Linked DNA regions of Homo sapiens. The protein of the gene in region 2 purifies or fractionates together with the protein of the main gene of each other region. This does not show direct contact. Each region holds a gene or a part of one and is shown on either strand. Other genes may lie near its edges. The genes, in order: TIMMDC1, ECSIT, PPP2R2D and NDUFAF4.

The links.
Region 1: the proteins of ECSIT (region 2) and TIMMDC1 purify together in Homo sapiens (affinity purification with mass spectrometry; 5 studies listed by BioGRID and IntAct, with this or other methods). This does not show direct contact.
Region 3: the proteins of ECSIT (region 2) and PPP2R2D purify together in Homo sapiens (affinity purification with mass spectrometry; 5 studies listed by BioGRID and IntAct, with this or other methods). This does not show direct contact.
Region 4: the proteins of ECSIT (region 2) and NDUFAF4 purify together in Homo sapiens (affinity purification with mass spectrometry; 4 studies listed by BioGRID and IntAct, with this or other methods). This does not show direct contact.

What each region holds. Positions count from the first base shown.
Region 1 is NC_000003.12:119,515,547-119,522,570, forward strand, and holds part of TIMMDC1 (complex I assembly factor TIMMDC1, mitochondrial isoform 1 precursor), read left to right. Parts: intron 1-1,658; coding exon 1,659-1,769; intron 1,770-7,024.
Region 2 is NC_000019.10:11,512,134-11,519,157, reverse strand, and holds part of ECSIT (evolutionarily conserved signaling intermediate in Toll pathway, mitochondrial isoform 1 precursor), read left to right. Parts: coding exon 1-83; intron 84-4,936; coding exon 4,937-5,354; intron 5,355-5,878; coding exon 5,879-6,102; intron 6,103-7,024.
Region 3 is NC_000010.11:131,946,004-131,953,027, reverse strand, and holds part of PPP2R2D (serine/threonine-protein phosphatase 2A 55 kDa regulatory subunit B delta isoform), read right to left. Parts: intron 5,499-7,024; coding exon 5,237-5,498; intron 3,919-5,236; coding exon of another isoform or gene 3,882-3,918; exon of another isoform or gene 2,624-3,881; intron 1-2,623. UniProt on the Homo sapiens protein: Substrate-recognition subunit of protein phosphatase 2A (PP2A) that plays a key role in cell cycle by controlling mitosis entry and exit. Involved in chromosome clustering during late mitosis by mediating dephosphorylation of MKI67.
Region 4 is NC_000006.12:96,894,871-96,902,851, reverse strand, and holds the start of NDUFAF4 (NADH dehydrogenase [ubiquinone] 1 alpha subcomplex assembly factor 4), read left to right. Parts: upstream 1-4,960; 5' UTR 4,961-5,050; coding exon 5,051-5,186; intron 5,187-6,004; coding exon 6,005-6,108; intron 6,109-7,981. UniProt on the Homo sapiens protein: Involved in the assembly of mitochondrial NADH:ubiquinone oxidoreductase complex (complex I). May be involved in cell proliferation and survival of hormone-dependent tumor cells. May be a regulator of breast tumor cell invasion.

The DNA.
Region 1 (7,024 bases), on a different chromosome or scaffold from region 2:
AATATAATCATGGGCATAATATATTCACAGTTGAGGGATTAGGCAGGATATTTGGGGGGACCACTTTAGAATTCTGCCTACCACACTTGGTTAAGGTGTTATCTGTTCAGTGTCTCCATTGCAAAGATATCTTTTTCCCAATGTGATTAATTAGTAATCTGGAGGGTGAAACTGAATATTCTGCTCTCCAGCTATCTTTTCATCATGTGTTTTTAATGATCCATTGACGACCCATGCTGTAATCGGTTGGTTACTAGAAAGGTGGTTGTAAATGTTGATAAGCTAGTTCTGTCAGTTCTTCTGTTTTTATTAGTTGGTATTTGTCTGACTAGAAGAGTGCTACCTTCGTCCTCCACCTGTTCACCCCTTTGTCTACCTCCTTTGAAGGAGAAGGTAATGCTATAGATTTAATGATTTTTTTAAAAATTTGAATTAAATAAAATCAGCATGTCATAATCTACTGCTGCCATTGCTTTTGTTGTAGTGTTAATATACCAGTTTGGTTTGAAGGGAAAAGTTGTAGGAGTTAGCAACAAAAATATTTTTTATTGTGGTAATAAACACATAGCATAACATTCACCATCTTAATCATATTTTAAGTGTATAGTTCAAAAATGCTAAGTATATTCACATTGTGCATGAGATCTCTAGAACTTTTTTATCTTGAGAAATGAAACTATATGCATTAAAAACTAATTTCCCCTCCCCATACCCTCCAGCCCTCAGCAAATATATTTCTACTTTCTGTTTCTAAGATTTTGACTACTTTAGATACTTCATATGAGTGGAATCATACACTATTTGTCCTTTTGTGACTAGCTTATTTACTTAGCATAATAATGTCCTTGAAGTTTATCTATGTTGTAACCTGTTGAACGGATTGCCCTCTTTTTTAAGGCTGCATAATACTCCATTGTATGTGTATGTTACATTTTCTTTAACCATCTGTCAGTGAACATTTATGTTGCTTCCACTTAGCAAAAATAGTTATTAGTATGAGGTTACTTAAATTGTAGCTGGAGGAAATTTAAGGTGTATGAAGGTCAAATACTTCTAGTCTGAGAACACAAGAACCAAACTCTCTTCATCACTATAATAATTATTATCTAAATCAGTTTCTCAATGGGTTGCTATTGGCATTGTGGGTGAGACAGTTACGCCAGACTCTTGAACTTCAGGATATTTTGGTGGTCCCACCCCCAAAAGCCAGTAGCATCCCTCCCTCAACCAGAAATGCCCTCCACATTTCCTGTCTCCTAGAGGAGCTGGTGCCATTCTGAACTAGAAATTTCATTTTTGAGAAATCTTTGGTGTGGGGCTACTTACTAGAACTTGTCATAAATATATATATTTTTCCTCTTTGTTTTGATTTATTTCTCATTCCTCATAAAAACAGCCAGTTTCTAGATCTGTTGTTTTATTATATATCAGTTAACTTTAGGAGGTTGTAGTGATTGTTTTTGTCTGTTGTTCAGACCAAGGAAGAGATTACCTCAATGTTTTTCTTTATTTGACAAGGACACTTTAATTCTCAAATGTTCCTGTACCTAATAGTGAACAAGTGGCTCTGGTGTTGCTCACACCTTAGCAGAGAATCTCACATGTTGCAAGGTCTAATGACTCGTTTTTCCTAAGCTTTCCCTCTCCTTTCTTCTCAGCACTCCTGTAGGAGGCCTGCTGATGGCATTTCAGAAGTACTCTGGTGAGACTGTTCAGGAAAGAAAACAGAAGGATCGAAAGGCACTCCATGAGCTAAAACTGGAAGAGTGGTAAGGAACATGTTGAGCCCAGGGAATCTTGGCTCTCTTGCCCCAGGCCTTATATAGTGGTGCTCTTTTAAACTTATGTACTCTAAACTGCCACTCAATTCAAAGAAGAGTTTATTTTTACCAAGTCCTTCAACTCATACTGTACATTGTCTTTTAATCTATTTAAGGAGAATGGAAAAATGAAAGAGATTGATTTTAGTTTTAATTTAATGAAGATCTTTCTTTGGATATCTTTTTAAGTTAAAAGTGGTGTAAATCTTGCTTGCATGTTTTTTCTTTTCCTGTGTTCTTAACTGCATAGGAAATTACCTAAAGGGAATATTCACCAAGGAGTGAGCTTTACCTGGCTTACTTAAAAAGTGACATCCTTAGCCTAGCAGGGTGGCTCATGCCTGTAATCCCAGCACTTTGGGAGGCCAAGACAGGTGGATCACCTGAGGTCAGGAGTTCGAGACCAGCCTGGCCAACATGGCAAAACCCCATTTCTACTAAAAGTACAAAAATTAGCTGGGCATGGTGGCACGTGCCTGTAGTCCCAGCTACTCAAGGAGGCTGAGGCAGGAGAATCACTTGAACCTGGGTAGCGGAGGTTACAGTGAGCCGTGATTGTGCTCCAGCCTGGGCCACAGAGCAAGACTCGGTCTCAAAAAAGAAAAAAAGTGACTTTTTTTTTTTTTTTTGCATACATATGTAAGTAAGACACAGCATGTTAAGTCTCCACAAAAATTCTATTTCTTGCTGTAGATGCAGAGGAATTAGGTGGACAATGGTTGTTCATGCACTGAATGCCACTGAGGAACATGAAAACTTTCACCTATTGCATCTAATCATCTCCTGGGATGCAATTTGTGGGATAGGGCAATCAGACTGATAGCTGACTTTGCACAGATTCAATATGTAAGATGAATATAACAGGCTGCCATCTAGTGCTCCTGAGTACAAATGATTTTCACTAGTTCACCTTCCTGGGTACCTAAGACAGCATTGGCTGCTGCTGCTGTTGCTGTTTTGGTATTATAATTGGATAGATGAGAAATCATTTTTTTCCAGTGTTTTCATTTGAAACCTCCATTTCTGCTAACCACACACACACAGACACACACACGGAAATTCTTAAGAGCTGTAGGTCCATCATCCAAGGACTTAAGTGCTATATGAGAAGAAAAGCATTGAGGTTGCAGTGAGCTGAGATTGCGCCACTGCACTCCAGCCTGGGCCACAGAGCAATACTTCATCTCAAAAAAAAAAAAAAATTAAAAAAGTAAATGAAACATTAAAAACTGCAGAAGTTTGTCAGTGATTTAGAGATCAGTGATTTTGAGATGGAAAAGCTTAAGAATGGCTGGCTATGGCCATTCTAAGGTCATTCACCTGGAGTCTTCCACCACTGGCAACCCTGCCAATTCTAGTGGCTGAGCTGCCACGTGCACCCCCTGAAGACTGGCTCATCCAGGGTCCACTGCCACCATTTACCTCCCCCCATCAGTTTAACAGCAGATTTGCCAGCAGAAACCTTACAAGTCAGGAGAGAATGGGATGATACATTCCAAGTGCTAAAAGGAAAAAACAAACAAACAGACAAACAAAACCCAAAAAACTCCTGCCAAGAGTATTATACCTAGCAAAGCTATTTTTCCAAAATGAAGGAGAAATAGTCTTCTCAAGACAGGCAAACACTGAGGGAATTTATCACCACTAGACTGCCTTATAAGAAATGCTTAAAGAACTCCTACATCTGAATGCAAAAGCACGGTAACTACCATTATGGAAACGTGAAAGAATAAAACTCACTGGTAGAGCAGATACAGAAAGGAATCAAACCTTATAATTACAAAAATCTACCAACCATGAAAATAAGAGGGGAAGAAAGGGGAACAAAGATTATACAAAACAACCAGGAAACAGTTAACAAAATGACAGGAGTAAATCCACACCTATCAATAACAATGTTGAATATAAACACTTTAAATTCCCCAATTAAAGATTTAGAGTGGCTGAATGAATAAAAAAAAGTTTAAAGACTCAACTATATATACTGACTACAAGAAACTCACTTCACCTGTAAAGATACAGATAGGCTGAAAGTAAAGGGATAGAAAAGGATGTTCATGCAAATGGAAACCATAAATGAGCAGGAATAGCTATACTTATGCTAGATAAAATAGGCTTTAAATAAAAAACTATAAAAAGAGACAAGGTCATTATATAATGGTAAAGAGATCAATTCAGCAAGAGGAAATAACAACTGTAAATATATATGCACCCAACACCAGAGCATCCATATATATATATATCTAAACAAATAATATTAGAGCTAAAGGGAGAGATAAACCCTAATGTAATAATAGCTGGGGACTTCAACACCACACTCCCAGCACTGGACAGATCATCTAGACAGAAAATCAACAAAGAAATATCAGACTTAAACTGTACTGTAGATCAAATGGATCTAGCAGACATTTACAGAACATCACATCCAACAGCTGCAAAATACACGTTTTTCTTATCTTGAAGTGTTCTTCAGGATAAACCATATGTTAGGCTACAAAACAAGTCTCAACAAATTTTTAAAGATCAAAATAACATCAAATATTTTTTCAGACCACAGCAGAATAAAACTAGAAATCAGTAACAGGAAGGACTTTGGAAACTGTGCAAATACACAGAAATTAAATAATATGCTCTGGAACAACCAATAGGTCAATGAAAAAATTAAGAAGGAAATTTAAAAATTTCTTGAAACAAATGAAAACAGAAACACAACATACCAAAACCTATGGGATACAGCAAAAGCATCACTAACAGGGAAGTTTATAGCAATAAATGCCTCCATCAAAAAGTAGAAATGTTTCAAATAAACAACCTAACACTGCACCTCAGGGAACTCGAAAAGCAAGAACAAACTAAACCCAAAATCAGAAGGAAATAAATAAAAAGATCAGAGCAGAGCTAAGTGAAATAGAGACTTAAAAACAAACAAAAAAACACAAAAGAAGAACTAAATGAAAAGTTGGTTTCTTGAAAACAAAATCAAGAAACCACAAGTTAGAAAAAAGACCCAATTAAGGTAAAAAACAAAAAAGGAGACATTACAACTGATACCACGGACATAGTCATATCATTAGAGATTATTATGAAACAACTGTATGCCAAGAAATTGGAAAAGCTACAGGAAATGGATACATTCCTGAGCCCCTATAATCTATCGAGATTGAGCCAAGAAGTAATAGAAAACTTGAACAGACCAATAACAAGTAACAAGATTGAACTGGTAATAAAAAGTCTCCCAACAAAGAAATGTCCAGGACCACATGGCTTCATTGCTAAATTCTGCCAAACAGTTAAAGAAGAATTAAGACCAATTCTCAAACTGTTCCGAAATATTGAAGATGAGAGAGTTCTTCCAAACTCATTCTACAAGGCTAGCATTACCCTTATACAACAACAAACAGACAAAGGCTCATTAAACAACAACAACAACAAAACCTACAGGCCAATGTATTCTACAAAACAATCCTTAACAAAATACCAGCAAACCAAATCCAAGAGTACATCAAAAAGATTATACATCATGAACAAGTGGGATTTATCCTAGGGATGCAAGGATGGTGCAGCATACACAAATCAATAAATGTGTTACATCATATAAACAGAAGGAAGGAAAAAAACCATATGATCATCTCAGTAAATGAGAAAAAGCATTTGGTAAAATTGAACACCCCTTCATGGTAACACCTCCCAAAAAGTTAGGGGTAGAAGGACTATTTCTCAGTACAGTAAAGGCCATATATGTCAAACTCACAGCTAATATCATACTGAACAGGGAAAAGTGAAAAGCTTTTCCCTCAAAGAACTGGAATGAAATAGGAATGCCCACTCTTACCAGTCTTGTTCAACATAGTATTAGAAATCCTAGCCAGAGCAGTTAGGCAAGAAAAAGAAATAAAGGGCATTGGAGGCCAGGCACGGTGGCTCACACTTGTAATTCCAGGACTTTGGGAGGCCGAGGCAGGCGGATCACTTGAGGTCAGGAGTTCGAGACCAGCCTGACCGACATGGTGAAACCCCATTTCTACTAAAAATACAAAAATTGTCATGGTGCACACCTGTAATCCCAACTGCGTGGGAGGCTGAGGCAGGAGGATTGTTTGAGCCTGGGAGGTGGAGGTTGCAATGAACCAAGATGGTGCCACTGCACTCCAGCCTGAGTGACAGCATGAGACAAAAGAAAATTAGGCACAGTAGTGCATGCCTATAGCCCCAGTTACTTGGGAGACTGAGGCTGAAGGATCCCTTGAGCCCAGTAATTCAAGGCAGCAGTGAGCCATGATTGTGCTACTGCACTCCAGCCTGGGCAACAAAGTGAGTCCCTGTCTCTTTAAAAAAAAAAAAGTGGGCGGGGGAGCTTGGGGGGAAACTTGTATTTCTCAAAAAATACCTACAAGTGCTAACAAGTATATGAAAAAGTATTCAACATAACTAATCAGGGAAATGCAAATCAAAACCACAATGAAATGTGGTTTGGGGACAGTTTGGGAAATTGGAGTGATATTTATCCCAATTAGAATGTCTATTATCAGAAAGACAAAAAATAAATTTTGGCAAGGATGTAGAAAGAAAAGGGAACTCATATACTTTTGGTAGGAATGCAAATTATTACAGCCTTTATAGAAACAGTATGGAAGTTCCTCAGAAAACTAAAAATAGAACTACTGTAAGATCCAGCAATCTTCCCTACTAGGTATTTATCCAAAGGAAAAGAAACCAGCATATCAAAGAGTTATCTGCGCCCCCATGCTTATTGTAGCACTATTAATAGCCAAGGTATGGAATCAACGTCAGTGTCCATCAACAGATGGATGGATAAAGAAAATGTGGTATATATCCACCATAGAATACTATTCAGCCATAATAAAGAATGTAATCCTGTCATTTGTGGGAACATGGATGAGCCTGGAGGACATTGTTATGTAAAATAAGTCATACACAGAAAGATAAATACTGCATGTTCTGTTGCTCATGTGGGAGCTAAAAAATGGGCTCATAGAAGTAAAGAGTAGAATTATGGTTACTGGAGGCTGAGGAGGGGACAGGGAAAGGCATAAGAAGAGGAGATTTAAGGGATTGATTAATGAATACAAAATTATAACTAGATCGGAGGCATAAATTCTAGTGTTCTGTGGCACTGTAGGATGACTATAGTTAATAATTTATTGTATATTTTCAAGTAGCTGGAAGAGAGGATATTTGAATGG
Region 2 (7,024 bases):
AGGCCACCCTACTGGCCCGAGGCCTCTGTAGGGCCTGGGGAGGCACCTGCGGGGCCGCCCTCACAGGAACCTCCATCTCTCAGGTAAGCACCAGCCAGGCAGTCTTTTGGGTAGAGGGAGGTAAGCTTGGGATTTGCTCCCAACTCCTTCAGAATCCACTCTGTGAAGCCAGTTCTGGTGAGTCTGGGCTGGCCTATCAGTGCCGAGGTCCCATTAAAAGTCCTTAGTTTATGTATGTATGTATGTTTATGTGTTTGTTTTTTGAGACAGTGTCTCTGTCACCAAGGCTGGAGTGCAGTAGTGTGATTACAGCTCACTGTAGTCTTGACCTCCCAGGTTCAAGCAATCCTCCCGCCTCATCCTCCCAAGTACCCAGGACTACAGGCACATACTACCACACCCGGCTAGTTTTTGTATTTTTTTTGTAGAGACGGGGTTTCACCATGTTGGGCAGGCTGGTCTTGAACTCTGGGCTCAAGTGATCCACCTGCGTCAGCCTCCCAAAGTGCTGGGATTACAGGCGTGAGCCACCGCGCCTGGCCAAAAGTCCATAATTTATTTATTTTTTTGAAACAAGGTCTTGCTCTATCACCCAGGCTGGAGTACAGTGGTGGAATCAGGGCTCACTGCAGCCTCAAACTCCTGGGCTCAAATGAGCCTCCCACCTCAGCCCCCTGAGTAGCTGGGATCACTGATTTGAGCCACCATGCCCAGCTAATTTTTTTTTTTTTAGATGGAATTTTGCTCTTGTCGCCAAAGCTGGAGTGCAGTGGCGTGGTCTTGGCTCACTGCAACCTCTGCCTCCTGGGTTCAAGTGATTCTCCTGCCTCAGCCTGCCGAGTAGCTGTGATTACAAGTGCACATCACCACGCCCAGCTAATTTTTGTAATTTTAGTAGAGACGCGGTTTTGCCATGTTGGCGAGGCTGGTCTCAAACTCCTGACCTCAGGTGATTCACCCGCCTCGGCCTCCCAGAGTGCTGGGATTACAGGCATAAGCCACCGCACCCGGCCGCTAATTTTTTTTTTTTTTAAGTATATGGTCTTGTTGTGTTGCCCAGACTGGTCTTGAACCTCTGGGCCCTCAGTCCTTCCACTTTGGCCTCCCAAAGTGCTAGGATTACAAGTGTGAGCCACTGTGCCTGGACCCTAATTTAAGAGATGCTAGTGCCTACGTGGGTGAGGGGATTGACTTTGAAAATAAGGATGTATGAGCTCGGTGGATTTGTGTGGTGACTGTGAGCAGCTCCTCCTGCATCTACTTGTGAAGATGGGGCAGAAAACTGAATTTCTTTCCTATACCCATAGTGACCAGATGGCGAAAGCAGATTGACAGCCATAGATAGCAATAACGATGATGGTGGGAATATTAATAGTTCCCATATTGAGCACTTACTCTGTGCCCGGCCCCGCACTATGCATTTCATTTACATTACCTCCTTTGCAGTGTTTCCCCCTCGTTAGGCATTTTAGAGCTTCCTTTCTGATTTTTACCCCAAAGTGGTACAATACTACACCACCTATATTATTAATTGACTGAAATTTCAGTTGTTTTTTGTTTTTGAGATGGAGTCTCCCTCTGTCACCCAGGCTGGAGTGCAGTGGCGTGATCTCAGCTCATTGCAACCTCTGCCTCCCGGGTTCAAGTGATTTTCCTGCCTCAGCCTCCTGAGTAGCTGGGATTACAGGTGTGCGGCACCACACCTGGCTAATTTTTGCATTTTTGGTAGAGATGGGGTTTCACCATGTTGGCCAGGCTGGTCTCAAACTCCTGACCTCAAGTGATCCACCCGCCTCTCAAAAGTGCTGGGATTACAGGCACGAGCCACTGCGCCCAACCTGAAATTTTACTGTAAATGAATGCCTTTTTTTTTTTTTAACATTGCCTTATCAAAGAACGATATGGGATGGCTGTGGGGACCGCAGAGTAGGGGGACTGAGGGCACTGACTCCATTCTCAGCTCTGATGCTTTGCAGCTGTGTAACACTGTGCATCCCACTTCATCTTCCTGAGCCTTGGTTTTTCTCATCTGTAAAATGAGTGCAGTAAGAGTACCCCCCACCTAGGGCCTCACATTTGTAAAGTGCTCAACTGTGTCTACAGTGGAAGAATATTTGGTAAATATTGTCTCTTTCTTTTGAGATAGGGTCTCGCTCTGTTGCCCATGCTGGAGTGTAGTGGCGTGATCTTGGCTCACTGCAACCTCGACCCGCCAGTCTCAATTGATCTGCCTACTTCAGCCTCCTGAGTAGCTGGGACTACATACATTCACCACCATGCCTGGCTAATTTTTGTATTTTTTTGTAGACATGAGGTTTCAGCAGGTTGCCCAGGCTGGTCTCAAACTCCTGACCTCAGGTGATCTGCCCGCCTCAGCCTCCCAAAGTGCTAGGATTACAGGTGTGAGCCACCGAGCCTGGACTAATATTGGCTCTTACTTGTTAGCGTTTTGTGTGTGTGTGTGTGTGTGTGTAGATAAACACACACACATTCATTTATTTTTTAGAGATAAGGTTTTACTCTCTCGTTCAGGTTGGAGTGCAGTGACACAATCATAGCTCACTGCAGCCTGGGATTCCTGGGCTTAAGCAGTCCTCCTGCTTCAGCCTCCTGAGTAGCTGGGACTACAGGTATACACCACCACGCCCCGCTTATTTTTTTATTTTTTCATAGAGAGATGGAGTCTCACTATGTTGCCCAGGCTGCAATGCGGTGGTGCAATCAAAGCACAGTACAACCTTGATAACTAGCTGTATATTTTTAAGATGCCTTATATGTAACCCTTCTAATTTAAAAATTCAATTTAAAATAAGAAATTTGTTACTGTGTCATCTAGAACCAGAATTTGGCTACTCTGGAGGCTGAGGTGGGAGGATCACTTGAGCCCAGGAGTTCTGGGCTGTTGTGCACTATGCTGATGGAGTGTCCTGCACTAAGTTTTGCTTAATATTGTGACCTCCTGGGACTTGGGGGACCACCAGGTTGCCTAAGGAAGTGTGAACTGACCCAGGTTGGAAACAGCAGGTCAAAACTCCTGTGCTGACCAGTTGGCTCATGCCTGTGAATAGCCACTGCACTCCCGCCTGGGCAACATAGCTAGACTCCATCTCTTAAAGGGTCCCAGCACTTTGGGAGGCCACGGTGGGTGGATCACCTTAGGTCAGGAATTCGAGACCATCCTGGCCAACATGGTGAAACCCCGTCTCTACTAAAAACACAAAAATTAGGCCGGGCATGGTGGCTCACATCTGTAATCCCAGCACTTTGGGAGGCCGAGGTGGGCGGATCACAAGGTCAGGAGTTCAAGACCAGCCTGGCCAACATGGTGAAACCCTGTCTCTACTAAAAATACAAAAGTTAACTGGGCATGGTGGCATGTGCCTGTAATCCCAGCTACTTGGGAGGCTGAGGCAGAAGAATTGCTTGAACCAGGGAGTCAGAGGTTATAGTGAGCTGAGATCGTGTGACTGCACTCCAGCCTGGCAACAGAGCGAGACTCCATCTCAGGAAAAACAAACAAACAAAACATAAAAATTAGCTGGGCATGGTGGCAGGCGCCTGTAATCCTAGCTACTTGGGAGGCTGAGGCAGGAGAATCGCTTGAACCCACAAGGCAGAGGTTGCAGTGAGCTGAGATGACACCATTGCATTCCAGCCTGGGCGACGAGTGAAACTCTGTCTCAAGAAAAAAAGAAAAAGAAAGAAGGGGCTGGGTACAGTGGCTCATGCCTGTAATCTCAAGACTTAAGGTGGCTACGCCGGGCGCGGTGGCTCATGCCTGTAATCCCAGCACTTGGGAGGCCAAGGCGGGCGGATCACGAGGTCAGGAGATCGAGACCATCCTGACTAACACAGTGAAACCCCGTCTCTACTAAAAATCCAAAAAATTAGCTGGGCGTGGTGGCAGGCGCCTGTAGTCCCAGCTACTCAGGAGGCTGAGGCAGGAGAATGGCGTGAACCCGGGAGGTGGAGCTTGCAATGAGCCGAGATCGCGCCACTGCACTCCAGCCTGGGTGACAAAGCGAGACTCTGTCTCAAAAAAAAAAAAAAAAAGACTTGGGGAGGCTGAGGCAGGTGGATCACTTGAGGCCTGGAGTTTGAGACCAGCCTGGCCAACATGATGAAACCCCATCTTTACTAAAAATACAAAAATTAGCAGGGCGTGGTGGAGCACGTCTGTAGTCCAGCTTACTTGGGAGGCTGAGGCATGAGAATCGCTTGAACATGGGAGGCAGAGGTTGCAGTGGGCTGAGGTCACGCCACTGCGCTGCAGCATGGGTGACAGAATGAGACTCTGTCTAAAAAAAAAAAAAAAAAATTACAAGCAAAAAGGGCCACCAGGCACAGTGGCTCATGTCTGTAATCCCAACACTTTGGGAGGTGGAGACGGGATGATCACTTGAAGCCAGGCGTTCAAGACCAACCTGGGCAAAATAGTGCGACTCCCGTCTCTGCTGAAAATTTAAAAATTAGCCAGGTGTGGTGGTGTACACCGGTAGTTCCAGCTGCTGGACAGGGTGAGGAGGAGAATTGCTTGAGCCCAGGAGTTGAAAGCTGCAGTAAGCCACAGTAGCACCACTACATTCCAGCCTAGGCCACAGAGCCAGACCCCGTCTCAAAAAAAAACCAAAAAAAAAAACCCAAAAAAAAACCGGCATGTGTGTGTCATCACTGTGAATATTACCAAGTTGCCTCCGTGGCAGTTTTTACCAGCTCCCCGTAGCCATGGCTAACAGTGCCTGTTTCCTCCCTACTGTGCCAGCATTGTGTTTTATCGCACTTTGTAATGGCCTCGAATCTTGGGTTTGTAACCACAGTTCCATACCTCCGAGTCCTCAGGGAGGCCACTGGGACCTCTCTGAGGAAAGAGCCAGCCTGGCGGCCCCCCATAGACACTGAGAGGTGCCAGATTCCAGCAGTTCTCCTCCCTCCCCAGGTCCCTCGCCGGCTCCCTCGGGGCCTCCACTGCAGCGCAGCTGCCCATAGCTCTGAACAGTCCCTGGTTCCCAGCCCACCGGAACCCCGGCAGAGGCCCACCAAGGCTCTGGTGCCCTTTGAGGACCTGTTTGGGCAGGCGCCTGGTGGGGAACGGGACAAGGCGAGCTTCCTGCAGACGGTGCAGAAATTTGCGGAGCACAGCGTGCGTAAGCGGGGCCACATTGACTTCATCTACCTGGCCCTGCGCAAGATGCGGGAGTATGGTGTCGAGCGGGACCTGGCTGTGTACAACCAGCTGCTCAACATCTTCCCCAAGGAGGTCTTCCGGCCTCGCAACATCATCCAGCGCATCTTCGTCCACTACCCTCGGCAGCAGGAGTGTGGGATTGCTGTCCTGGAGCAGATGGAGAACCACGGTGAGGCCAGGAGGCTGGCGCAGGGTGGGGAGTGGGCTACACTGATAGCTGGCAGCACCTCTCCTGAGTCTCAGCCCCTCCTTCCTCCATGGCTCCGTCTCTGTCTCTCTCGCTCTTCTCCCTCTCCGAATCCCTCTTTTCATCACTCATCTCTCTTTCTTGCCTCCCTCTGACCTCCCCTCCCCTCCCCCCTCCCTCCCTCTCCTCCCCCCACTCTCCTCTCTTCTCCTCTCCTCCCTGCCTCTCTCTCCCTCCCTTCCTTCCTCTCTTTCTCTCTTTCTTTTAGAAATGGGGTCTCACTATGTTGCCCAGGCTGCTCTCAAACTCCTGGACTCAAGTGATCCTCTCCCCTTGGCCTCCCAATGTGCTGGGATTACAGGCATGAGCCTTTTTCTTTCTAATTCTCTCTGATTCTTTTCTCCCTGTCTGTGATCAATTCCCTCACTTCACTGTTTTCTTTTCTCCTCTTCCCTTCCCTCCTCCCCCTCCATCTCTGAGGTTCTGCCTGCATCTGCCCAGCACAGGTGTGATGCCCAACAAGGAGACGGAGTTCCTGCTGATTCAGATCTTTGGACGCAAAAGCTACCCCATGCTCAAGTTGGTGCGCCTGAAGCTGTGGTTCCCTCGATTCATGAACGTCAACCCCTTCCCAGTGCCCCGGGACCTGCCCCAGGACCCTGTGGAGCTGGCCATGTTTGGCCTGCGGCACATGGAGCCTGACCTTAGTGCCAGGGTCACCATCTACCAGGTATCCGCCCTTGTCTACAGCGTCAGCTGCCACCCCAGGCCAGGCTCCCGCCATTCCTCCCCTGGGCTCCCCTTCTCTCACTCTAGTGATTGTGGTGAATCAAGTTCTTTTTTGAGACAGGGTCTTGCTCTGTTGCCCAGGCTGGAGTGTGGTGGCACTATCTCGGCTCACTGCAGCCTCTGCCTCCCAGGCTCAAGCGATCTTTCCACCTCAGCCTCCTGAGTAGCTGGGACTCCAGTCACACACCACTATGCCTGGCTAATTAAAAAAACTGTTTTTTTTTTTCAGAGACAGGGTCTCACTATATTGCCCAGGCTGGCCTTGAACTCCTGGGCTCAAGCAATCCTCCTGCCTCGGCCTCCCAAAGTGCTGGGATTACAGGCATGAGGCACTGTGCCTGGCCGTGAATTGAGTTCTGATTCTCTGGCTGAGTCCCCTGGTAGGTTCCCATGGTCCTTACTGCTAGCACAGCTTGAGTGACCTCTGCTTCAGTCCGTTCAGGCTGCTCTAACAAAATCTCTTAGCTTGGGTCATTGATGAACAACAAAAATTTATTGCTCACAGTTCTAGAGGCTGGGAAGTCCAAGATCAAGGTGCCACCAGATCTAGGTCTGGTGAGGGTTTGCTCTCTGCTTCAAAGATGACACCTTGCTGTGTCCTCACATAATATAAGGGGCAAACAAGCCCCTCAGACCTCTTCATATTTTTTTTGAGACAAGGTCTGGCTCTGTTGCCCAGGCTGGAGCGCAGTAGCACTATCTTGGCTCACGGCAAATTCCACCTCCCAGGCTGAAGCCATCCTTTCACCTCAGCCTCCCAAGTAGCTGGGACTACAGTCGTACACCACCACGCCCGGCTAATTTTTGTATTTCTTGTAGAAATGGGGTTCCACCATGTTGCCCAGGCTGGTCTCAAACTCGTG
Region 3 (7,024 bases), on a different chromosome or scaffold from region 2:
CAAGTCACTAAGACAGTGAACCCCCTGCACACCCGCAAGTCACTAAGACAGTGAACCCCCGCACACTCGCAAGTCACTGATAAGACAGGGACCCCCCCCGCAAGTCACTGCTAAGACAGTGAACCCCCCACACACACCCGCAAGTCACTGATAAGACAGGGACCCCCCCCGCAAGTCACTGCTAAGACAGTGAACCCCACACACACACCCGCAAGTCACTGCTAAGTGAACCCCCTGCACACCCGCAAGTCACTAAGACAGTGAACCCCCCGCACACCCGCAAGTCACTAAGACAGTGAACCCCGCACACCCGCAAGTCACTAAGACAGTGAACCCCCACACACCCGAAAGTCACTAAGTGAACCCCCCCGCACACCCGCAAGTCACTAAGACAGTGAACCCCCCGCACACCCGCAAGTCACTAAGACAGTGAACCCCCCGCACACCCGCAAGTCACTAGTGAACCCCCCGCACACCCGCAAGTCACTAAGACAGTGAACCACCCGCACACCCACAAGTCACTAAGACAGTGAACCCCCCCGCACACCAAGTCACTAAGACAGTGAACCCCCGCACACCCACAAGTCACTGCTAAGACAGTGAACCCCCGCACACCCGCAAGTCACTAAGACAGTGAACCCCCGCACACCCGCAAGTCACTAAGACAGTGAACCCCCCCCACACATGCAAATCACTAAGACAGTGAACCCCCCGCACACCCGCAAGTCACTAAGACAGTGAACCCCCGCACACCCGCAAGTCACTGCTAAGACAGGGACCCCCCAAGTCACTGCTAAGACAGTGAACCCCCCCGCACACCCGCAAGTCACTGCTAAGACAGTGAAACCCCCTGCACACCCGCAAGTCACTGCTAAGACAGTGAACCCCCCCGCACACCCGCAAGTCACTGCTAAGACAGCGAACCCCCCTGCACACCCGCAAGTCACTGTTAAGACAGGGACCCCCTGCAAGTCACTGGTAAGGTGGTGAACCCCCTGCACACCCGCAAGTCACTGCTAAGAGAGTGACCCCTCTGCACACCAGCAAGTCACTGCTAAGACAGGGACCCCCCTGCACTGTGTTGCCACTCTGGAAAGAAAGATGGTCTCCTATCCCATCCCCAGTTGGGGTCCTCACTTGCTAGAGTACATATGTGTCATCCCCACACACATTTATATTTTGTATACAGATTTTTTTTGTTTTTTTTTGAGACAGAGTCTCACTCTATCGCCCAGGCTGGAGTGCAGTGGCACAATCTCAGCTTACTGCAACCTCCACCTCCAAGGTTCAAGCGATTCTCCTGCCTCAGCCTCCTGAGTGGTGGGATTAAAGGCATGCACCACCATGTCCGGCTAATTTTTGTATTTCTAGTAGAGATGGGGTTTCACTATGTTGGTCAGGCTGCTCTCGAACTCCTGACCTCGTGATCCGCCCTCCTCAGCCTCCCAAAGTGCTGGGATTACAGGTGTGAGCCACTGCGCCTGGCCAATAGTTACAGATTCTTAAAACAAAACCGTCTTGTATGTCTTAAACATGTTGTATGTCATTGCACCGTACGCATTCCTCCTGAATTTTCTTTGTGGATTATCTTTGTGAGATCCACCTAGGTGATCCATGTAGTTCTAATAATTGATTCTCACTGCTTTTCAGTATATGTTATGATAGAGAACAACTTACCTGTCCATTCCTCTAATGATGCACCTGTGGGCTGTCTCCAGTTGTTTGCTATTTCAGGTATCTGAGCACGTTTTCTTGTCTGAACATGCAAGAAGCTCCCAACCCGACTGAATGTCACCAAGGAGGTCACAAGAAGGGTACTGGGTAAGACCACTGGTCTCCACCCTCTCCCCCAAACCATCATCATTCTGATGGGCATGAAAGGACGTCCCTCTGGCTTTACTTGCTGATCACTAAGAAGGATGAGCATTTCTATTTATTTTTCCATTTCTGCGAAACCCCATTCATGGTTTTTGCTCTTTTCTGAGTTGTTTGCCACCTTCTTGTTGACAACTAATTCTGCACCTATTCTGGATACTTAATCTCTGTTCGTTATCCTTTTGTGGATTTTGTTTTCACTTTTAATTTCAATATAAAGAAGTTTAAAATTTAATGTAGTTGAATTTCTTAATGTTTTCCTTGGGCTTTTGGGGCCTTCTTAAAGAAGCCCTTGTTTCCAGAGCTCACAAAGATGTCTTAGGCTTAGAAACACTCAGAGCTTATTTATTTATTGTGTGGGGCTGGTGAGGGCTCTAATTTTTCTCCCCCAAACACAGATAACTAAGGCCGTCCAGGTGGCAGAGCTTCAGAGTTTGCACTGCTCTTCCCTGCAGGCTGCGTTCCTCTGCCTATCTGTCTCAGCCCCTTTCTGCAGGGCCAGGCTCCCTTTACAGCTCGCTCTACTGAGTTTCCTGTTGTGATACATTGTTTCCCATTTGAAAATGCCTTTATCACAAGCAGATTCTTGAACGAGCATCTACTTCAAGGCTTGATTCTAAGCTGGCGGTGGAGAGTAAGGAGTCACACTTGCTGGATCTGTCACACGGCTTCTGGCTCCCACTGTGGCCGTGGCAAAGCCGAGTCTCAGTCTCGGTGTCCGCTCTCAGAGGTAATTTGCGTTTTTTCCTTGGGTGCATTTAAGATATTCTCTTTGCGTTTGGTGTCCTGCAATTTCATTATGAGATGGATGGATGCTGTGCTCCCGATCCTGTGTATTCAGGCTTTCATAATTTAGAGAAAATTGCTGGCCACTGTCACTTTAAGCCTCACACCCCCAAACTTTGTTTAAACGTGTGCTGTGCCTCACCCTGGCCTCCACGGTTCCTAGTGTCTCTTGTTTTCTGTTTGGCTCTTTAGCCCGCATTTCTTCTGGTTTTCCTTTCCATCCACTAATACAAGATCTGTTTAGCCAAAATGGACCTGCTGCTAAACCCACACAGTTTCATCTGTCATACTTGTCATTTCTAGATGTTCTCTGACTCCTTTCCAGTCTCCACGTCATGTTTGGCGGTCATGTATCATACTTGTCATTTCTAGATGTTCTCTGACTCCTTTCCAGTCTCCACGTCATGTTTGGCGGTCATGTATCATACTTGTCATTTCTAGATGTTCTCTGACTCCTTTCCAGTCTCCACGTCATGTTTGGCGGTCATGTATCATACTTGTCATTTCTAGATGTTCTCTGACTCCTTTCCAGTCTCCACGTCATGTTTGGCGGTCATGTATCATACTTGTCATTTCTAGATGTTCTCTGACTCCTTTCCAGTCTCCACGTCATGTTTGGCGGTCATGTATCATACTTGTCATTTCTAGATGTTCCCTCTGATTCCTTTCCAGTCTCCAGGTCACGTTTAGCGGTCATGTGGCTCCTGGTTCAGGCTGTTTCCTTCCTCTAGTCTGTGAATATCTCAAGCATTCTTAGTTTATCTTCTTTAACTTAGGATCTCAACAGCTGCCTTCTCGGAGGTTCAGTTCTGCTGTGGTTCTGCTGACTTGCTCACGGTGGCTTTTCCTGTATGTGCTTGGTAATTTTCACCTGTGAGCTCATGTTTAGATGATTTTAATGTGACGAAATCCAGAGAGACCTGGGTGTGCTGGCAGCAGCTACCCAGCATGCGTGTTCTCACGGAGTTTGCCAATGCCATTCTCTCCACCTGGGCCACTTCTCAGGGCTGTGCTTCCAGCAAGCGGCCTTGAGGAATGAGGTCATGTCTCTTCTAGTCAAAGTGCAGGTGTGTTTACTGCCCGCTGTGAAAGCAGTGGGGTTCTCCAAGCTCAGTGTGCATCAGCCACGGCCTCAAGTGTCCACCCGTGGGGAACCCAGGCCAACGAGAGGCTCATGCTGCCAGCTGTGCCATGAGAACCCGGGAACCTCATGTCTTCAGTCAACATCCGTGAGATGCTACAGGCTGGCAGGTCAGTCTGCAAACAGAGTAGAAGCCAGATCTGGAAACACGCCGGTCCCTCCCGATGCCCGCACACAGCCCTCGTGGAGGCAGGAGCTCCACAGTGTGAGATTTTACAGATCATGATGTAGCTGGCACAAACCCAAACTGCAAACCCTTGTGAGGGGAGGTTTTGCTTCCACTTCTCAGGGCAGTGCTGGCCACCCCCATGCAAGGCCTCAGACAGACAAACTGCCCTTTGGACCCTATCTGCCAGTGGAGGGAGACACCATCTTCAGGGGTCCCTGTTCCAACTCTACACCTCGTGTGGGCCAAGGCTTCAGCTCTTGAAAATTACCAAGCACATACAGGAAAAGCCACCATGAGCAAGTCACCTCGTGTGGGACAAGGCTTCAGCTTTGCACCATAACCTGCTGTTCACAGGGGCAGTGGTTCCTGCTATGGGCTGATGCTCCTGAGGCCAGCCGGGGCTGCAAGGCTGCTCTCGGAATAGACGCCTTCAGAGGCTGCCATTCTGGTTTCAGCTCCCTCTTAGTTTCTGGCCGTTGTGAGATTTCCCTTGCTTATCTGTGAGCTCAACTATGCACCTGAAGAGACACCTGCTGTATCATATCCAGCATTTCTAGGTGTTTATGCCAGAGGGTTTTGCAGAATATCCAGTCAATCACTTATTGCCAATAGACTCCTCTGTTCTCTTGAATTCTGAACAAAAATTCTATATAAAAATGGTGCAAGACAATCTTCCATCATCTGAAACGTAACTTTTTGCATAATAAAAAAAACGTAACTCTCAACCACACTAATCATAGCTATCTTTAAAGAATGTATACAAAATAAATTATCAAGGTACTAGAACCATCACATTATAAATTACATTGGTGTTTCAGACCAGCCATGACCACGCTGTGTCTGGGCATGACAGGCAGTGGCTCTGGGGTGTTTTCATCTACTTCTCTCCAGAAGGAAAGGCAGACTGCAACGCGGTCATTCCAGTGAGGTGAATCACTTCCCCACTTCCTTCCTTTTCACTCATTATCAGCATAATAAAAAGTAATACACTATCATTCACTAAGCATTTAACACATAGCCGGCCTGTACCTAGTGCTATACTTCTTGTCTAAATATAAATGGAATGACAAGCTAGGTGAGAAACTTGCTCAGAGATCCTATTTTCTCTACCTTGATACTATCATCCATCAATCAAAAGGTCTGGAAAACAACACCCTATGAGCGTCCTCCTCTGACGCTGGAGGACAGCTCGCCTCCCTCACTGACCTTGCACTCTCGGAAACCAGCAAGCTTGGGGCGACAGCTCATCTCCACGCAGGCCTTACCTATCCGAACCGTTCCAGCAACACTCAAACTTGTCAAAGATGCAGTCGTTCTCATAGAGAGAGCAGAGCTTGCTGCGCAGGTACTCGTGGACCTGGTGGGTCTCCACCGGCCTGCTCTCCATGTTGAGGTCCCACACCTTCACCGACAGGTAGTCTCTGGTCATCATGTACCGCCCACTATGACTGAATTTTACATCGGATATGGATGAAATTATTTCTGAGAAGAAGGACCTACTGCTGGGATCTTCAGGCTCTTCAAAAACTGAAAAACAAAATAAAATGTTTTCAGCTTCTGTTTAAAAATCAGAGAACAAATCATTTTCAAGTTCAAGTAGGAAGTGGCCCCTTCAGAGAGACTCTGGAAGGGCTTGGCCTCAACACTAGGTCTTCTGATCTTTCTGATTCTCTAGGTTTTCTGATCTTCTGTGACTTCCGTGGGCAAGAGCTTCGGATAAGACATTCTAGCACCAGCTATGGACAAGGGATGGGCATGAGAAGCGTAGACGCCCAAGTCTCACCCGGACCCTGAATGAGAATCTCTAGGCAAGGTCCTGGGCACTGCCATCTGTGGGAGCTCCTCGGGGCATCCTGATGTGTGCCCAGGTTCAGCACCACCGCATTCCTGTAGGAGTGTCTCCGCGTCCTCATGGCACCAGGCCCGAGCACGTGAAATTCTATCGCATACACATCACAGGAAGACACAAACAGCATTATATGGTCATGCAGACACAGCGGTCTGTGCCTCTAAGAAACTGCCTGCTTTTTGGAGGGTCGACAGTTTGTGGGTCTGCAGGAGTGACCACCTTGACTGGCAACGCTGTGGTCCTGATTTTAACCACCAAGACGGTCCCGCCGGTCAAAGCCAGCCAGCCAAGGTTTGTCTCCAATACTGAATATACACAAGCTCTACTGTGACAAAACTGGATTCCTATTTTCAGAAAGATCCTCCCGCCTCAACCTCCAGGGTAGCTGGGACCACAGGTGAGCACCACTGCACCTGGCTTGTGCTTCCTTGACCTGAAGCTGCTTTAGGTTTTTTCTCTTTTTTCTTGATGCAGGAGCCTGTGTTTGTCGGCTTAGCATCTGAAATTAACTTGAAGCCAGCTGTGCCGACGCCAAGCATTTACTCAAATAAATCACTCTGATGACAAATAGAACTGGAATCTGAAATTATTTACTCAAGAATTTTATGCTTAAGATACAGGCCAAATGCTACGAAACACTCATCCTCATCGCAGGAATTCTAGTAGAAATACGAATTCTTAAAAACACACTCAACCTCAGGAAAGAGAACAGGCGAAAAGGCTGCTGCACACGGTCCATGGGCACATTCCACCGAGGCACTGGGGGCGCCGCTGCACATGAGCAGCGGCTCAGTCTGGTGGGATTGACTGGCGGCTTCCCCATCAGAGGAAGTCACTGGACGTGTGTCTACCTGCTGGCACTGGAGGAAGGGTCAGCAATGTTTCAGGACACTGGGACACGCTGACTACAGTGCTCTATAAAGTCAAGCCCATTCTTTATGGCTAAAAATAAAAACAAAACCAGAACCTCCCTCACCTAAAAGGAGCTTGAAAGCTCACTGGATTAAAATGCTAGACTTTCAGCTAAGGGAAGTGGCTTCCAATCCAGCCAAGCTCAACATGAACAGGAGCTCATTCCAACAGCTGGGAATGGCCTCCTGTGTGCTGGCGGCCTCAGCCCAGGTCTCACGCACAGAGGCAGAGGCAACGGGTGGCTCTTGGCGGGACTCAGTGCTGGCAGCCTCTGAGGAGACACCCAGGCTCT
Region 4 (7,981 bases), on a different chromosome or scaffold from region 2:
GAAAGGATTCCCTATTTAATAAATGTTGCTGGGAGAACTGGCTAGAATATGCAGAAAATTAAAACTGGACCCCTTCCTTACACCATACACAGAAATCAACTCAAGATGGATTACAGACTGAAATGTAAAACCCAAAACTATGAAAACCCTAGAAGAAAACCTAGGCAATACCATTCAGGACATAGGCATGGTAAAGATTTCATGACGAAGACACCAAAAGCAATTGCAACAAAAACAAAAATTGGCAAATGGGATCTAATTAAACTAAAGAGCTCTGCACAAAAAAGAAACTATCAACAGAGTAAACAGACAACCTACAGAATGGGAGAAAAGTTTTGCAATCCATGCATCTGACAAAGGTCCAATATGCAACGCCTATAAACAAATTTACAAGAAACAAACAAATAATCCAATTAAAAAGTATGCAAAGAACATGCCCAGACACTTCTCAAAATAAAACATACATGCAGCCAACAAACATGAAAAAAAGCTCAATATCACTGATCCTTAGAGAAATGCAAATCAAAACCACAATGAGATAGCATCCCACACCAGTCAGAATGGCTATTATTAAAATGTCAAAACAAAAACAAAAACAAAAACAGATGCTGGCAAGATTGTGGAGAAAAAGGAACACTTTTACACTATTGGTGGGAGTGTAAATTAGTTCAACCATTGTGGAAGATAGTGTGGCAATTCCCCAGAAACCTAGAGGCAGAAATACTATCCAAGCCCACAATCCCATTACTGGGTATATACTCAAAGGAATATAAATTGTTCTATTATTAATAAAAAGACATATGCACATGTATGTTCATTGCAGCACTATTCACAATAGCAAAGACATGGAATCAACCTAACTGTCCATCAATGATAGACTGGATAAAATGTGGTACATATACACCATGGAATACTATGAAGCCATAAAAAGGAATAAGATCATGTCCTTTGCAGGGACATGGATGGAGCTGGAGGCCATTATCTTTAGCAAACTAACACAGGAACAGAAAACCAAATACTGCATGTTCTCACTTATAAGTGGGAGCTAAATGATGAGAACACATACACACATGGAGGGGGAACAACAAACACTGGAGCCTGTTGGAGGTCGGAGGGTGGGAGGAGGGAGAGAATCAGGAAGAAGATCTAATGGATACTGGGCTTAATACCTGGGTGATGGGATGATCTGTGCAGCAAACCGTCATCTAAAGTTGATGACTGTAGTGAACAAAACAATAAGCCTTCCAAAAATGTCTCTTAATCCCTGAACCTGCAAATGCTACCTTACATAGCAAAATGCACTTTACAAATGTGACTAAATCAAGGATCTTCAGATGGAGAGATTATCCTGGATTATCCACGCAGGTCCAATGTAATCATAAGGGTGTTACGATGGAAAGAGGGAGGTAGGAAAGTCACAGAGAAGGAAATGTGACAATGAAGTGATGCAACTGCTGGCTGCCAAGAAATGCGGGAAGTCTCTAGAAGAACCCCTTCCCCATTTAAAGTAAAAAAAAAAAAAAGGCATCCAGGAGGAATATATCTCTGCTGACACCTTGATTTTATCCTTAAAAATCTCATTTTGGACTTCTGATCTCCAAACTGTAAGATAATAAATTGTTTTGTTTTAAACCATTTGCGGTAATTTGCTAGCAGCAATGGGAAATGAATACAAATGAATACAATGACAAAAGTCATGAGTGCAGTAACCACAAAGCAGGCATCTGGGCATAATTGCTGGTTGATCATTCTAATCTCTAATCTGAGACCCAGTGTTCCTCAATATGAATACTGGATCTGCACAAAGCCTAGTTTGTTTTGGTTTTGAGTTTGTGGCACTACCCCCCGCTCCCAGTATTCTAGGTTTTACAGACCCAAAACACTGCATCACTATGAAATTGGCCAAACTTGGGAACCTTGTAAATTATTTCAGTTGGACTCCTACAAATTCTCTGGTTTCTAATCTGGAATCCAGGCCCTGGAGAGGTTCTCTCTGCCTGAACACCAGAACCTCTGCCAGAATAAGTCATTCCTCCATAAATCTGTTGTGCTCCTCACTAGTGGTTGAGATTTGATTGATGAAACCTCTGAGGGCTGTCCTGGGCCCCTTGAGCCAACTGTCACCTGGGTTTAGCTACTGTAATCCTTTGGAGAACGCAGAATGCTGTTGAATTATGTTCAAAAGAAGGAGTACCCAATGGTAAAAGTCTAGGCAGAGAGAAAGACATGAGGGCAGAGGGAAACAAAGTGGGGACTATTTCTGTGGCCAATGTCAGGCACAGGCAGGTGGCATTTTATGCCCGAGAACTAATGATTCCCACCCATATTCCAACCTTAATAAATCTAACAATACCACCACGTGTGCTGAGCACGTTAATCAGCAAATAAAAATCAAATTTAGCATTTTTTATTTTTTAAAAATTAAATTATTGAAGAACATGAGTCTTACCGTAATCTCAAATTTTTTTATCACTTTCATTCACCTATTCACCAGAGCTTCAGAATATGTGTCCTTTTTAAAACTGCTCCCTTCTCCTCTGAAAAATGAAAAACAATGCAAATATTGAACATCAGATTCTGAGCTGGGCATTGTACTAGACACATATTTTTAATCTGTGTAAAACCCCTTAGGTGATTACTATTATCCCAATTTTAAGATGAGCAAAGTGTGTTCAACCACATTAAGTTACTTGCATAAGGACTCACTTCTGGAAGCAGGGCTAGTGTTCAGGCAGAGAGAACTTGTCTGGGGTCTGGACTCCAGCTCAGGGATCCTACTTGTCTTTCAGTTCATTTGACCTTTATTTGATAATTGTTTAGTACCTACTGTGTACTAGCTGTTCAATGTGTTGAACAGTGAACAAAACAGACAAAGTTCTGTCCTCAGAATTTACATTCTAGTGTGTTGTCAAGACCCTGGGTTTATTAGTATCTTAAGATATTCAGCCATACACATGCATCATAATACTCCACTCAGATGGAAGCTTCATTCTAAGCAGCATCCTAGTTATACTTTCCTTGGGGATCTGACTTCAATCCTTAACATAAGCCCAACAGGAGTTCTTAAGTTCAGAGTTCCTGTTAATTTATATGTTTTGACAAGAAGAGCTGGAATTATGCATTTATGGTTCAGGTTTTATTTCCATGATTCCCAAAGGGTGACAGCCAATTGTGAGTTTCTGATGGAGTGCATCTGCCTTCTGTTTTGCAATTTGAGGGCCTGAGCAGCACTGGGCCAGGATCAGGCAAAGCAGCTGACACATGCTGGAAGCTCTTTCAATGTTGAATCCAAGCTCTATTGGAATGTGTGAATTCAAATAATTATTTCATATTGTAATCCCTACTGTCCTGACAGTCACTTCTAACATTACTTTTTCATACTGCCCGAAGTTCGGTGGAATTTCTATGAAAATGAGATTTTCACTTTTAAAATATTTTAACAGGCAGTGAGTCGAATTGCTACCATGATTAAAGCACATAGACATAATGAGGCAGATTAAAATTTCTTAGCACCCATAGAAATAGAAATACCGTGCCTAAAAAGCCCTGAATCACAAGCATGCTTAAAAGTATCAAAGATAGAAATCTTGGAGCAGCCTGCCACCTTCAGGATAACTTCCCAGTTAATGCTATCTGAGATCACTGATTTCAGCTTCTATAAATTCCAAATACCAATCCCTGTAAAAATGTTCAGTATAATTAAATAAAGGGCATTTAAATTAGAGTGGCTGAAGCCGTCTTCCTTGCAGTGCTTTTGCTCTGATTAAGCATTATACTTAATGATTACATTAGTTTTCTTTTTAAAAAACTTTCCCTTTCTTCATTTTGGTTCTTTGATTCTTGTTTTATTATTATTATTCTATTCGATTATCTTTACATCAATATTTTCTTACTTTAAGCTGGTTAAAAACATCCACTCTACTTCATTTTGCTAAGCAGAGATCAGAACACTAAAAATAGATTTTGCAGCCACAGTAAGAGAAATACTGTAACTTCCTTCCTACTGCTTCCTTCCTGGTGGGTTTTATTTTAGATTAATAACAATATTTCTAAAGGGTCTTAAATAAAAGCAGCACTACAGTAACCCATTCAGGAAATGGAGAGAGACGGAGAAGGTGAATGTAACACTCGTTTTTTTGTTTGTTTGTTTTTTTTTTCTGACGTCTTATTGTCTGTTCCTTTCATTAAATTACACAGAGGCTTAAAAAGAATGAAGAAGGCAAGAGAGAAGAGAAATAGGAGAGGGAATGACTCAGCATTTAGTAGCATGGAGAAGTAAATTAGTAGCAAAAATAAGATAAGGGAAAGTATAACTAAAATCGATACCATTAGGTCAAATGAGAACGGGATGTAAAAAATAATGGAAAAAGAATACAGTGGCTTGAAAATGCATCAGGCGGGGGGACAGGAAAATAAGAGGCATTTAAATGAGAGCGGCTGAGAACAAATACTCATCGAAAGGGAACATCCTTTCATTATTTTCCTTTCACAAAAGCAGGAAAGGGCAACTTGAGAGCCCAGTTTGACCCTGGTTCAGTAAGTTCCATTTTTATCGGCTAACTCTTTGGTGGCATTGCCCTGTGAAACAACTTCAAGGTCAACTTCCTTACGACTTTGATTTTCAGCTCTTCACTGAAACTTTGGAATCACGTGGAGTCTTATCCAATGCTGGGCCTCACTCCACAAGAATTAAATCAGAAAGTCTGGGGTAGGGCCCGGCACAGAACTTTACAGAGCTTCCCGGGTGACTCCCTCGGAGTTCCAGCGTTAAAAGCAACCGTGGGTCTGGGGACTTAAGCCCCGCCACCTCCCGCCGGAAGCGGCCCTCGTGGGAGCCGTCACTCGCCCCGAAGGGAGGGGCTCCCTTTTAAATGCCCTGGGCAGAGAAGCGGTGTGTGGCCTCCCGAGCGCTAGGGGGCGACGGGCACGCATTTAAGCGCCCGCGGCGGGGCTTCCCCTCACTTGTGCGCATGCTCCGGGTGTCCCGGAGTTGTCCTGCGCCGGTGTTCCCACGTGCGGCCTGAACCTGAGCGCATAATGTTATGAGGAGATGGGAGCACTAGTGATTCGCGGTATCAGGAATTTCAACCTAGAGAACCGAGCGGAACGGGAAATCAGCAAGATGAAGCCCTCTGTCGCTCCCAGACACCCCTCTACCAACAGCCTCCTGCGAGAGCAGATTAGTCGTGAGTGGTGCGAGGGCGTTTCGGGGCCCGGGGGCGCGGAGTCCCTGTGCTGCCCGGCTGTCCCTAGCGTGGGTCCGGAGGCCGAGGGATCGGCGTCAGCCTGCTCGGCCGCAGCCGCTCGGGTTGGCGGAGCGTTGGAAGGGGGAGCCGCCAGGCCGGTGACATTGAGACTGTCCTCCGCGCCCGCGGTGAGGTCGGCGGCCCCGCCTACTTCCGAGACCCAGAGGCAGCAGCCAGTGCTCCCGCTAACCAGGCCCTCGCCGGCTGCTGTCACGGACTTGATACAGGGAATCAAAATCCGAGAGGGTCACAGAGCTTTCTCTAGGGGTCTTCACTGGACGATGGACGCAGAGCCTGACCTGGAATTTTGATTTCCATCTAAAGTATTTTCCTAACAGTCCAAATGATTATGTTTATTTTTTAAAAAAATTAAAGTGGTTAGGCCGGGCGCGGTAGCTCAAGCCTGTAATCTCAGCACTTTGGGAGGCCGAGGCGGGCAGATCACCTGAGGTCAGGAGTTCGAGACCAGCCTGGCCAACATGGCTAAACCCCGTCTCTACAAACAATGCAAAAATTAGCCGGGCGTGGTGGCGCGCCTGTAGCCTCAGCTTGTCGGGAGGCTGAGGTGGGAGAATCTCTCGAACCCGGGAGGCGGAGGTTGCAGGGAGCCGAGATCGCGCGACTGCACTCCAGTCTGGGCAACAGAGCGAGACTCCGACTCAAAAAAGAAAATAAAAGAAAGCGTTTGTGTTAAGCGTTTAGGATATTACAGGAAATTTTCCTTGATTTTAATATTGTGACTTTTTTCCTTTCCTTAGTCTATCCAGAAGTTAAAGGAGAGATTGCTCGTAAAGATGAAAAGCTGCTGTCGTTTCTAAAAGATGTGTATGTTGATTCCAAAGATCCTGTGTCTTCCTTGCAGGTAAATGTGTGTTTAATTAAGTGAATACACAATTTACTTATTTTGGGGCTTCAGGAAAATGATTAAGTGTGGCAAGTAGTAAAAAGAGTGCTCTGCAAGTGTGTGTTGTGATCAATCTACACGCCTTGGCAAAGTTTAAGCACACTGGTGTAAGACAGCAAGACACTTATGCCTTGGTTCACTGGATATTTACCAGAATTCTAAAATAACTTGTGGAAGTATTGATACAAGCAACTGTGTGAATTATTTCATAGTATTTCAGAATTTGTAGGATTTGGTAAGGCATTACTTCCAGTGGTTGTCATTTGAGTGACAAAAGCAGAGCTTTAATATTATTTTCTCATTCTTCTGTGGATTGAGGTATGTTCTAATCTCAGAGACTCCTTTAGTAAGTGGTGTTGTTGGATTTTGTGGGGTGTTCCTGTTTGTTTTTTTAAGGATGTATTCAGATAGGATATTTAAAATTAGAAGGATCAAAGAATACATTAGGAATGGGAACCTATGTGTAAATCCATATTCTGTATTATGTAAGTCCTGGGCACAAGTGCTTTGTATATAGTGATGAACAAAACTAGTCCTTATTTTCACAGGGCCTATGATGTTGTGAAGGACACAGCCATTAAACAAATGAGCAACAATGTGACCATAATTATGGGAAAAGTACGTGCACTGCTGAGTATATTGGAGGGACCTCTTTGAAATGGGAGGATCAAGGATGGTTTCTGAGGAAGTGATAGTTATGTTCAGGCCTGAGGAGGGATCAGTTGGAGTTAACCAGATGAGTTTTTGGGGGCAGGAAGATTCTAGTTAGGGGTAAAGTTTGATTAAAGGCCAAGGAAGTGCCAACAACTTCCAGATTTTTTTTTTCATTCTAAAATATTCTGGTACTGTCCCTCTCTCTCTGGATATTTGCACAGATAGAATTATTAATATAATTTTCACTACAGAGGAGAAATAAAACAAGATTTGTTAATCGCTGCACATAGTAATTGTAGGGTTCAGTTATCACCACATGCTCACATGAAAAAAGTATAGGGTTAATGTCTGTGTTCTTACGTCATTTTAAAATAGGTGTTGAGTAATACTCCCCAAGTATTCTTTCTCTCATGTTACTTAATTATGCATCTGAAAATTCACTCTTGGGAGCAAAAAAAAATTAATGCTTTGTATGTATAAGACTCAGTTATACATATAATGCGTAAAGAGATACGTATATAGTGATATTAAAATTTCATGGGGACATTAGGAAAAGTCTAGATTCCTTAGGGAGAGTGATAATGAAAACTGGAATTGCCTTTTGTTTATGTTCTGTGTCCCTTTTTTTCCTTCGGGCAGTTCATGGTTGTGATGCCTCTAGACATCATTGATACTGTGCCTTTCATATGGCAAATAATTTATTTGTTGTCTGACTTTTTAACATATTTATTCAAAATTCTGTCAAATATTTCAGTCTTTTTGCCTTTTGTGGTAAAGGAATACTGGGCCCACTCTACCATCATATAAACTCTTCTGTATTTTCTTCCAGTAGTTTTATAACTACATTTTATATTAAAATCTTTATCTGGCATTAAATGTGGTCTTTGATGTGTGGAATAGATCAGTTGAACCTCTTTTCAAACAGATGGCTTGTTGTGTAAATATAATTTGTTGAAGAGCCCAGACCTTTCTCCACTTACTTAAAATGCATCTCTAGATACACATATGGGTCTATTTATGGACTCATCAGTTTTACTTATTTTTCTATTTATACACTAGAACCATAGTTTTAATTAATAGAGCTTTATAATGTGTGTTGATATTTCTTATAGTCTTCTCTCATTCTTTTAAAAAGTTTCTGGTCTCTTTTCACACATTAATATTTTTCCAGATGAAT